3 linked regions of the Homo sapiens genome follow. The protein of the gene in region 3 purifies or fractionates together with the protein of the main gene of each other region. This does not show direct contact. Each region holds a gene or a part of one and is shown on either strand. Other genes may lie near its edges.

Region 1 (3,649 bases), on a different chromosome or scaffold from region 3:
TTCAAGATAATGTAAAAATCAAACTCTTTGGTATTATTTTTATTGAGTTTTAAAAAGAAAAAGTAAAAGATGTTTCTCTTCTTACAAAAACCAATAGGCCCCAGTGAAATATCATGGAGACAGATCAAAGGAGAGTTTAGTGAGTTTTGCAATGCAGCATGTTAGAAGTACAGTGACAGAACTTTGGACAGGTAATTTTATTTTCTTAATTTGCTTGATTTTCAGGGTATTTTGAAATCAGTATTTTGTTTTTAATGGCAATATTAACATTTTGGTCATGGTATTGAAATTTTAAAGTGTCTTTTCCATGTTTCTTAGAAGGGAATTGTGTCATTTACTCTGAACTCTGCTGAATTTAACAAACTAGTTAAATTTTTACAGAAACTTGAACTATCGAGATATGGGAAATGGATATGAGATAGGGCTACGGTAAAAAAGGCATCTCTCAAAGTGCAAAAAATGTTTTGTAATACAAGTGTTTTATTGCTTTTTTAAATATGCTTATCAATCAGTAAATTCAAACCTATTCTGTTTAATTTTAAAGTTTAAAAATGCTTCTAATCTTAGGCTTTTAACTCATTAACTGCCTTTAGGCAGATTAAGCTAATAATAGTATTTGTGGCTCAAGATGTTCATTTTATTCATTGAGTAAAGTTACGTGTCAGAAACTATTAAATAGTGGGGCTGCAGTAATAAAATATATAGTCCCTGCCATCAGTGACTTCATTAGTGAGGAAAACATTAGTAAACAATTAAAATGCAATATAGGTACTATTATTATAGAGCTTAAGGGAGCATAAGATGTGTAAAACAACCCAGTTGGGGAAAAGAGAAAGAGTTAGAAAATACTTCTTGAAAGAAGTCATATCCAATCTGTCATGAAAATGAATAGGAAGCCTTAGGAGATCACTGTGTATTTGGGGAACTGGCAATACTTCATGAATCTGACAAAAAGATCAATAATTGGGTCAAGTGGTGTGGGGAAATATAATATAGCTGGCTAAATAGGTAGGCAAAGCTCAAGTCACAGGGGCCTAACTTGCCAATTTGAGTTTTTTTCTTAATGAAATAATGAATTTAGGTTTTATATGATGAAAAAATTGGAGAGCCATTGAAGGAATTTGTCATACTCAAGAGTATCTTTGGAAAGATAACTGGTAAAACTCAGAGTGGATTAGAAGAGGGTGAGATTAGAAAGGAAAAATTACTTAGAAGACTGTTTCCATTAGTAAAGGAGTAATAGGTGATCAGAATTTGCTTTTTTTCTTTTATTTTTAAGGAAATTTTGTCAACTCCATACAAACTGCTTTTGCTGCTGGTATTGGCTGGCTGATCACTTTTTGTTCAAAAGGAGGAGGTAATACTATTTTTTAATTTTGTTGGAATGAGAACATGACATTTAAATTTTTGGTGACAGTTTTAAGTATGCTACTGTAATTGATTATTAAGTACTAGAAACTACAATTTATGCCCAGGATTACAATTTTTTTACTTAATGAATATTCGCCTTTTTCATTATTTTACACATGAGGTTATTATTCATTTTTTAATGTATCCTCTATGTTTTTATGTTCAGTGGACCAGTTTTTCAGCTTAGACTCATGATAAATTGTACCTTCAGATAGCCACAGATGTTATTTGACAATTTGCAAAAATAACTAGTTGTTTACAGCTCTAACCCCTCCCAAAATAATAATTTTTTGGAAATATGGACTTTGCTTCATGCTTATATATATCTCTCAAACATACATAGATTTGCCTCATACAATTATATACTTGAAGATGACAGCTTCTTCTAGGAACCTTTCCTTGAATAAATTAAGTTGAAAATTCAGTACTCTGCATAGCAAGCCGTAAACTGTAAACTGTGTTCAAGCAATGTGGTTGGTTAAAAATTGTTCTAAGACAACAAAATATTATAACTCAATGTATTTGCATGTATTTAATCCCAACATGAGTCTTCTCCCCACATTTCATCTCTCAGCCTTCATGCTGCTATATTGAAAAGGTACTGCCTTGTAACTAAAATCAACCCATTACCCCATCCTGTAAGGCCTATGCTAGAAAGACACTGCCTTGCAGCAAAACGTCAGCCTTAAACTTAACTAATCACCAAGGGATTTTGTCTCATTTTGGCCTATTGCCCAAATTTCTGTTCATCCACACATGAACAAAAGTTCTTACATTCTCTGAGATTCTTTTACTTCTCACCTCAAGTAAATTGCTTCTCCCTGTCTTTGTAGGCTCTGTGATGCTATAGCTCTCTTTCTTCTAAATCTTCTCTCATTGTATTCTAGTGTTCATATTTGCAGAACTTTCATAAAAATAGTGAAGGCACTATTTAAAGATTTTATTGTATTTTGAGGATCCTTTATATACTTCTATCAAATATCTATTACATTTTATTTCCCCCCAATTTTGAGATCTCTTGGATAAAATGGATTGTTGATAGGAGGAGAGATTGAGAGTATTAACCTAAAGAGAGAAAATTACTTTTTCTCTGTAGCTAGACATCCTAGAAATTAAAGGGAGAGAATGAAAGAAAGAGGGAGCGAGGGAGTGTGTGTGTGTTTTTGTGTGTGTGTTTGTATGTGTGTGTGTGTAGAAGGATTTCCATATCTATCAATAGAGTCCAGCTCAATTAATTGCCTTCGAATGAACATGGTAATTTGGGGGAAAGGCAAATGCAAGTATTTTCATCAGGCTTAATAAAGGTAAAACTGCCTCATAAGGTTTTTTTGTCCCCAGATTGTTTGACTTCACAGACACGACTCAGGCTTAGTGGCATGTTGGTAAGCATCAATCATTTTGTAAAACTATATCACCATGTAAAGAAACACATTTAGAAATTGATTTGAAACATTTTCTTCCCTTATTTCTTGAACATTTAACTCACCTATTTGTAATCTTATTTTCTGATGACTGTATTCATAGCTATGTGTTTTTTCCTGAATAATTAGTTACGTTCAATAAATTTTAACGTGGTATCAATTCTAAGTGTCATTTACTTTGTAAGTATTCTGTAATTTATAAGTTCCTCTTCAACTGAAGTTACATGTTAGTGTTTTTGTCATTTCCCAACTTTATCTTTTGTTGTTTTCTTTTTTAGTCATTTTTAAATGTATATAGCTCTCATGTTATGGCTGGGAAGTAGCCTGAGTGATGTTGATTTTTTAACACCATTGAAATACCCTTTGTGGCTTTGTGGCTTGACAAAGCCACACAAATTGTCAGTTTTGAAAATTTTGGAAATTCTTTGTGAGCTTGAATATAATAATGTTATGTTAGGTGTAATATATGTTAGGTGTAGTATTACATTTATTAGATCAGATTTATTAATCATGTTATTTGTTTTTGGACTACATGATCTATAATTTCTAAGAGGGATGTATTAAAATCTCTACCATCCATCATTGATTTATCTATTTCTTATATTTCTGTCAGTTCTTCCTTTACATATTTTGACATTATATTGTTGGCAGCAGTATGATCATTATATCCTTTGGCGGCTATTTATTTCTCTTTGTGCATTATGGATTTGTTTACACAAATTCTGTTTTATTTGATATTAAAATCACTAACTTAGTATGCTTTTGTTTCATTCCCTTTCTTATTTCACCCTATGCCTAGGCCTTTAGTTTTTCAGCAC
Region 2 (3,649 bases), on a different chromosome or scaffold from region 3:
CCAAAGAGAATGGCCTGAAACCAGAGCCAAGGCTGGAGCCGCCCGAGACAGAGCCAAGGGCAGAGCCACCTGAGACCAGAGCCAAGGTTAGAGCCGCCCGAGACCACAGCCAAGGGGAGAGCCAAGGGCAGAGCCACCTGAGCATTGCCCTTTCCTCTGGGAGCTTGTAATTGACTTCAGAAAAGTGCAAATCATGTCCCATTAACTCAGCTCCGCCTGCAATGCCGAGGCACTTCTAATCCCACACGGAGCCAAGGGGGCCTCCACAGCTCTGCCAGCGGGGAATGGCCACGGCCCATGGGGGCTTCCATTCCTGCCTGGGAGGCCTGAATCCGTTGTCCCCAGGCACCGGTTACTGAGCCACAGGGGGTCTGTGTCTTGACACATGTGCTAAGAAGAAACATAAACACTAAAAAAGAAAAAGAAAACCAAATCTGTGACAAGTGAGAGAACCACCCCAGTCTTTCAGGGTCTGAAGTTACTCTATAGCTCTTCGCTTTTTTTTTTAAAGGAGCCTCCTCAATATTCTTCAATGAAAGGGACAGGTGCAGATGCACTCTGGGCAGAGATGGCCCCAGTAATGCTGTTGGCTGGAAGACGCCCTTGCTCACGCTCTGCTCAGTGAGAAGGGATTCCTCACCGGCTGTCACACTCACCTTGTAGGTGAAGGCCTTCCAGGGCAGATGTGCCACTGACTTCAACTGAAACAGGAGAGACAGGCCCAGGTCAGCTGTGGGCAGCACAGGAGACGGGGGCCGGGCCGCGGGCAGCACACACCGCCTTACCTTGTAGTTCACAAAGAGCTGGGGCAGCATGAAGAGGAAACCAAAGGCATAGACCCCTGCAGAAAGACAGACAGCACTCACGAGGTGCGGAGGGCCGGGCTGCCACATCTACGCACAGACGGCACTCACGAGGTGTGGAGGGCCGAGCTGCCACGTCTATGCATAGTGGGCAGAAAACAAGGTCTGCTATCCAGACAACTTCAGAGTCCATCATGGTGTGAAGCAGCTTTCTGGCTGGTAAGTTTATCAAGAGTCTACGACAACTTTGGAGAGCAAAGCTCTTCTATTTATTAATCAGTGTAACTGCTGCCCACGGGGTCAAGTCAGTGAGAGCACTGGAGCACCCTGGGGCTATGAGGACACGGCCTCCTGACCCACAAGGTCCTGCCCCAGGGGTCAGGTGTGGGACTCCTACCAGGGAGGACGGCAGTGCGGGACCCACCTGCTCTGCACCAGACAGGCCCTCGCCCTTAATGCTCACGGGACCACTTCCCAAAGAGACCACAAAGCTGCGATCAGGGCTGGTCTGGTGGGGCTGGGGGATGGACACAGCAGCCCATGCAGCTGAAGGTGCCACCTGGGGCAGGCGGGCCTCCCAGGACATGTGGCCCCGAGCACAGGGCCCTGCAGGGTCCCCACACTGCATCTGCAGGAGGGGGCGCGCCGTGCACCAGAGCCTGGTGCTTCCATTTGCTCTAAGGAACCAGACGTGGATGGTGTTGTTTTAATGCTTAGGTTTCCTTGTTTCCATGAAGAAAACAGACAACAGTCATGCACCACACAATGCTGTTTTCATCAGCGATGGACACATATACCAGGCGGCTGCACCACACAGCCTGGCGTGGAGGGGCTGCCACATCTGGTGTGAGCACTCCCTGTCGCTTGTACAAGGACCTGTTTCTCAGAACCAGTCACTGTTGTGAAGCCACGCAGGGCTTTATCTGCTCACAGCCTGGGGGGAGCCCTGGGCACCGCACATGTGCCAGAACAGGGTGGGGAGGGATTAGCCTCAAATCACAGGGGGGCTTGCCACACTGGGTTTCAATGCAAGAACAATTAAATCGCTGCCTGCTGGAAACACTAGTACTGAAGCAGGGAAGCACATGGACTCACCGTTGACGAAGCTGTTGATTAACCAGGAGTACCAGCTGAAACGGAAAAAAAAGGAGAAGTCCTATTTCTCGCATAGCTTAATATCTGTATTAAATTGATGAAAAATAATTCTTTCATTAAAAATCCTCTGAAAATACCCAGATGCTCTCACGGCAGCTCGGCAGCCAAGAGCAGCAGTGCTGAGCCTGGTTCTCAAGCTGGAGATAGCGCTGAGCACCCCCGGCCGGGCAGCAGAGGCCGGGCACTCCAGGAACCCCTCAGCTCAGGGCCAGCACCCCACCTGGGCAGCAGAGGCCAGGGGCTCCAGGACCCCTCTCAGCTCAGGGCCAGCACCCTGCCCGGGCAGCAGAGGCCGGGCACTCCAGGAACCCCTCAGCTCAGGGCCAGCACCCCACCTGGGCAGCAGAGGCTGGAGGCTCCGGGATCCCTCTTGGCTCAGGGCCAGCAGCCCACCTGGGCAACAGAGGCTGGGGGCTCCGGGATCCCTCTTGGCTCAGGGCCAGCACCCCACCCGGGCAGCAGAGGCTGGAGGCTCCAGGACCCCTCTCGGCTCAGGGCCAACACCCCACCCAGGCAGCAGAGGCCGGGGGCTCCGGGAACCCTCTCAGCTCAGGGCCAGCACCCCACACGGGCAGCAGAGGCCAGGGGCTCCAGGACCCCTCTCAGCTCAGGCCCAAGCCTCCCATGAAGCCTGGTGGCTGGAGTCAGTCCTCTCAGCTACACCTTACCAGGGGGACACTGAGGCCCAGAGCCCACCGTGTGCAGCTGCAGGGGCAGGACCCCTCCCAGGCGCTGGCCCAAGTGCCCCGGCCCCGAGTTTGCCCTCCAGTCGCACCCCGCTCTGGCTCAGTCATCCAAATGGCTTTCTCAGGGGAAAGACGCAGCAGGGGAAGCGTGTGCGGCCTCCTACCTCTTATATTTGATATTCAGGAGTGAATAGACAGCACCCCCGACACAGAGAGGGTACAGCAGGTATGACAAGTACTTCATGGCCTGCAGGGAACAAAGATGGCTTCCAGTTAGAGGCCCAAACGCCAAGCCTCTGTAAACACACTGCATGGAGCTCACCCCGACAGGGACAGACAGAACGAGCTACAGCGCTCAGGGTGGCAGGGCTGCTCTGCAGGGGGCGGCGTGAGGGGCACAGGCAGGGCATCGCACACTCGCCACAGCCCCAGGAGGCACCGCACACGCCAGAGCCCGGGTGTAACTACAGGCGCTAGTTAACAATAATAGATCAATTCTGGTTGGTCAAAACCAACCAACCCACAACAGATCAATAAACATAATGGAAAGAAACCGGAAAAAACTGCCTACTAAGTAATGTAGTTACATCGCCAGCTGTATCCATTCTGATTTCAGCTTTACAACGCCATGCAAGTTGGATATAAGCTGGTGAAGATTAAACCAAACTAAAATCATCTGTGCAGAAATGTTCTATTAACTGGAACTGAGAATTCCAGCTCCCCCAACAGCAATGGGGAAAGGTGACGCCCTGTGCTGCTGGGGCCATTCCTCCAGGCCACTGTGCGGCCGCGGCCATTATGGCCTTGGTGACGGCAAGTGCGTTCCCAGCAACCACAGCAGACACCATGGCCTGCGTCAGCTGCCTGGCGAATGTGACTTACAAACGATGAAAATATCCCTACTATACGGTGACACAGGCAGGCTGTGCCTGTAAGGACTGGGAAATGAGTCTCTGCGAGCCCCCGCCCTTCCCAGTAAGAAATTTGGGTTTTATGTGTTCACTC
Region 3 (3,649 bases):
TACCCAGGAACAGTTTCTGTTGGTTAATATTTTCCCTTTGAATGGGCCATGTTTTTCTTTTTCTTGGTGTGTTTTTGGTTGAAAAATGGACATTTGATTCTTATAATGTGGTAGCTCTGGAGATCAGATTCTCCTTCTTTCCCAGGGCTTGCTTTATTTTATTTATTGCTGTTGGTGTTTCTGTGCTGGGGATCAGCCAAAGGCACAGAGTTAATGTCTTCTCAGGTATTTTTGAGACTGCATTTTTCTCTGAGCATTTATGCAGTGTGGTGACTGTCTAAATATCCCTATATTTATGGTTGCTTTTGAATGTCCTTGTCCTTATATGTATGGTTCCCAAAAGGAGAAAAAGGGAAAAATGAAGGTGTCGGGGATAGGTGCTTACTCTTTAAATCTCCTGGAAGTCACTTTAGTAAGATGTGGAGGTGGTTGCAACAACGGTGGTGGGAGTTGCATTAGTGGCTGCCTGCCTGTGTATCTGTACCACCAATATCAGAAGTAATGATCAATTATCAGAACTCAGATCCTTGATATTTGAACTTATTTATTTATTTATTAGAGACAGGGTCTGGCTCTCTTGCTGAGGCTGAAGTGCAGTGGTGCAATCATAGGTCACTGCAGCAGCAAACTTCCAGGCTCAAATGATTCTCCTATTTCAGCCTCCTGAGTAGCTAGGACTACAGGCATGTGCCACCACACCCAGCTAACTTTTGTATTTTTTTTTGTAGAGACAGGGTGTCGCTATGTGCCCAGATCGGTCTCCCACTCTTGGGCTCAAGTGACCCTCCTGCTTGCCCTCCCAAAGTTCTGAAATTACAAGTGTAAGCCATCATGCCCAGCTGATATTTGGTGGATGGTGTCCTTGCCTACCTGGCTCCTGCAAGCTGTGTACAAGCTGCTTCTGGAAAGCATACACAGCTGCATGCCTTGAGGCTGGGAGTGGCAAATGGGTAGCTGCTACTGTACTAAAGCTGAGATTGCCTGAAATTAACCACAATTTACTGTCCAAGCCTTATCCTGGAAGCTTCCAGCCCTCAATAGACTCCAGAGTTCCAAAATCGTTACACTAGGGCCGGTGTGGTGGCTCATGCCTGTAATCCCAGCCATTTGGGAGGCCGAGACGGGTGGATCACTTGAGGTCAGGAGTTTGAGACAAGCCTGGCCAACATGGTGAAACCCCATCTCTTTTAAAAATACAAAAATCAGCTGGGAGCGGTGGCACATGCCTGTAATCCTAGCTACTCAGGAGGCTGAGGCACAAGAATCGCTTGAACCCAGGAGGCGGAGGTTGCAGTGAGCAGAGATCGCGCCACTGCACTCCAGCCCAGAAGACTCCATCCATCTCAAAACAAAACAAAACAAAACAAAAACAAAATAGTTATACCAGACAAATTGTTGTCTAGCTGGGGAGAGGGATTCCTGACACTTCCTACTGTGCCATTTTCCCTAATGTCACTCTGAGCCTTTATGTTATAGAAGGGAGCAGACCATGAGGATGCCTGGTGCATGGCTTTGAGGGTGTGCACACTGACATTTATATGTGCACACAAATATGGGCCGTTGTCACAGGCCAGCTTGTTAGACGGTGGCTGTGCCATATTGGGGGTGATAGGAAGGGGTACAATTATGTGTCTGTGCATGTTTGTGTGTGTCAGTGTGTGTTCATGTGAGGTGATAGGTGTTGCTCTGTGTTTGTACCTGCATAAGTGTACTTCTGTTTGCACCTGTGATTATACCTATTCTGTGAACCTTGGAGTATGTTCATCTGGGGGTACACCTAAAACTGTGTTCCGGTGTAACTGTACAGTGCACATACATCTTGAGGGTACCCCTGAGTGTGTGTGTCTGTGCATGTCCTTCTCTATATGTACCTTGTGTGTGACCTCTGAGCATGTACATCTCTGTGTATATTTTGTGTACTTGTGTGCATGTACCTCTGTGTACCTCTAAGCATGTATCTACGTGTATATCTCTGAGTGTCCCACTGAGCACATCCCTTTGAGTGTGTAACTGCATGTGTGTCTCTGAACATGTTCCTCTGTGTGTTCCTCTGATCATGGACCTCTGAACATGTGCCTTTTAGCATGTACCTCTGTGTGTACCTTCGAGAGTGTGAGCTGGATTGAGCCCTTTAGGGGTGTGCATAGCGAACCAAAGCTCACTGACCCTCCTCCACTCCTAGGACTCGTACCTGCTTGACTATTTCCTCTTTCTGAACCGCTACTTCGAGGTGGGGGCCCCGGTGTACTTTGTTACCACCTTGGGCTACAACTTCTCCAGCGAGGCTGGGATGAATGCCATCTGCTCCAGTGCAGGCTGCAACAACTTCTCCTTCACCCAGAAGATCCAGTATGCCACAGAGTTCCCTGAGCAGTGAGTTCCTGGCCCGCCCCAAACCCCAGCCTACTCCCTGTTTGAGTCCCTCCAGTCCTCTCCAGTCCCCTCTTCCTGATGTTCTATCCCTGTCCTGCTGCCCTGCTGCCTTGCTGCCGTATGCCTGGGGAGGGCTGCGTGGGGGTTGGGCCACGAGAAGGACCCACCACCCTGCCCAGCTGGCCTTTTCACCCTTCCTCCCACCTGCCCCTTAGGTCTTACCTGGCCATCCCTGCCTCCTCCTGGGTGGATGACTTCATTGACTGGCTGACCCCGTCCTCCTGCTGCCGCCTTTATATATCTGGCCCCAATAAGGACAAGTTCTGCCCCTCGACCGTCAGTGAGTGTGGGGCCATGGGGACTCACTGTCCACCACAGCTCGGGCAAACTGAGGCAACAGAAAGGAGAGGACTGGAGAGGCTCCCTCAACCTCTCCCACGCATCCTGCAGGGTCTGTCGGGGGCATGGGTGCAGATGTGGCCTGAGGGACAGGCACTCTGTGAGAAGCACCTGTGTGGGTGACCGTGCTGGCCCGTGGGCATCACACATGTATACTGCTGTGTACTGTGCCCCCATTTTCAGAGCACATGGTGCTCCCGGGTGGCAGGGCAGTGGGGAGTCAGGAGGGGAGAGCTGCTGAGGTTAGCACATGGCCCTGCCGCCCAAAGCAGTGGCATTTGTAGGTGGAGAGGCCTTTGTGGGGCCTGTTTTTCTGCCCCAAACTTCCTTTCCCCTTCTGCCTGTAGGTGCCCACAGTTTCTATAGCCAAGAGGAGAACTTCTCCCACAAATGACAAATGCAAATCCCCCTAGAAGCGACTGGTTGAGGCTGGAGTGCCCAGGACCTTTGATGGGATTGTTGGGGAAGGAGGGGCACAAAGCAGGAGCTGCTGGCCCTGGGGTGTCACTGCCCAGACCCCTGCTTTCTCTGCAGACTCTCTGAACTGCCTAAAGAACTGCATGAGCATCACGATGGGCTCTGTGAGGCCCTCGGTGGAGCAGTTCCATAAGTATCTTCCCTGGTTCCTGAACGACCGGCCCAACATCAAATGTCCCAAAGGGTAAGCTTGGGAGGGCCTTCTGCTGGGGAGGACAGACATGTGGGACACAGGATGGGGTTGAATATAGAGAGGCAGGAGGAGGCTATCAGGGGCCTCTCTGGGGTGGCTGTGGGCTGGGCAGATGAAAGAAGCTTCGTCCCTGGCTAAGCCTTTGCCCTGACCTTCTTGCAGCGGCCTGGCAGCATACAGCACCTCTGTGAACTTGACTTCAGATGG

Evidence for each region.
Region 1: the proteins of NPC1L1 (region 3) and DNAJC10 purify together in Homo sapiens (affinity purification with mass spectrometry; one large-scale study listed by BioGRID and IntAct). This does not show direct contact.
Region 2: the proteins of NPC1L1 (region 3) and CLPTM1L purify together in Homo sapiens (affinity purification with mass spectrometry; one large-scale study listed by BioGRID and IntAct). This does not show direct contact.

Annotation. Positions count from the first base shown.
Region 1 is NC_000002.12:182,729,751-182,733,399, forward strand, and holds part of DNAJC10 (dnaJ homolog subfamily C member 10 isoform 1 precursor), read left to right. Parts: intron 1-97; coding exon 98-191; intron 192-1,279; coding exon 1,280-1,357; intron 1,358-2,748; coding exon 2,749-2,792; intron 2,793-3,649. UniProt on the Homo sapiens protein: Endoplasmic reticulum disulfide reductase involved both in the correct folding of proteins and degradation of misfolded proteins.
Region 2 is NC_000005.10:1,320,979-1,324,627, forward strand, and holds part of CLPTM1L (lipid scramblase CLPTM1L), read right to left. Parts: intron 2,892-3,649; coding exon 2,809-2,891; intron 1,934-2,808; coding exon 1,899-1,933; intron 842-1,898; coding exon 786-841; intron 702-785; coding exon 657-701; intron 1-656. UniProt on the Homo sapiens protein: Scramblase that mediates the translocation of glucosaminylphosphatidylinositol (alpha-D-GlcN-(1-6)-(1,2-diacyl-sn-glycero-3-phospho)-1D-myo-inositol, GlcN-PI) across the endoplasmic reticulum (ER) membrane, from the cytosolic leaflet to the luminal leaflet of the ER membrane, where it participates in the biosynthesis of glycosylphosphatidylinositol (GPI).
Region 3 is NC_000007.14:44,520,776-44,524,424, reverse strand, and holds part of NPC1L1 (NPC1-like intracellular cholesterol transporter 1 isoform 2 precursor), read left to right. Parts: intron 1-2,182; coding exon 2,183-2,373; intron 2,374-2,588; coding exon 2,589-2,713; intron 2,714-3,306; coding exon 3,307-3,433; intron 3,434-3,604; coding exon 3,605-3,649. UniProt on the Homo sapiens protein: Plays a major role in cholesterol homeostasis. Critical for the uptake of cholesterol across the plasma membrane of the intestinal enterocyte. Involved in plant sterol absorption, it transports sitosterol, although at lower rates than cholesterol.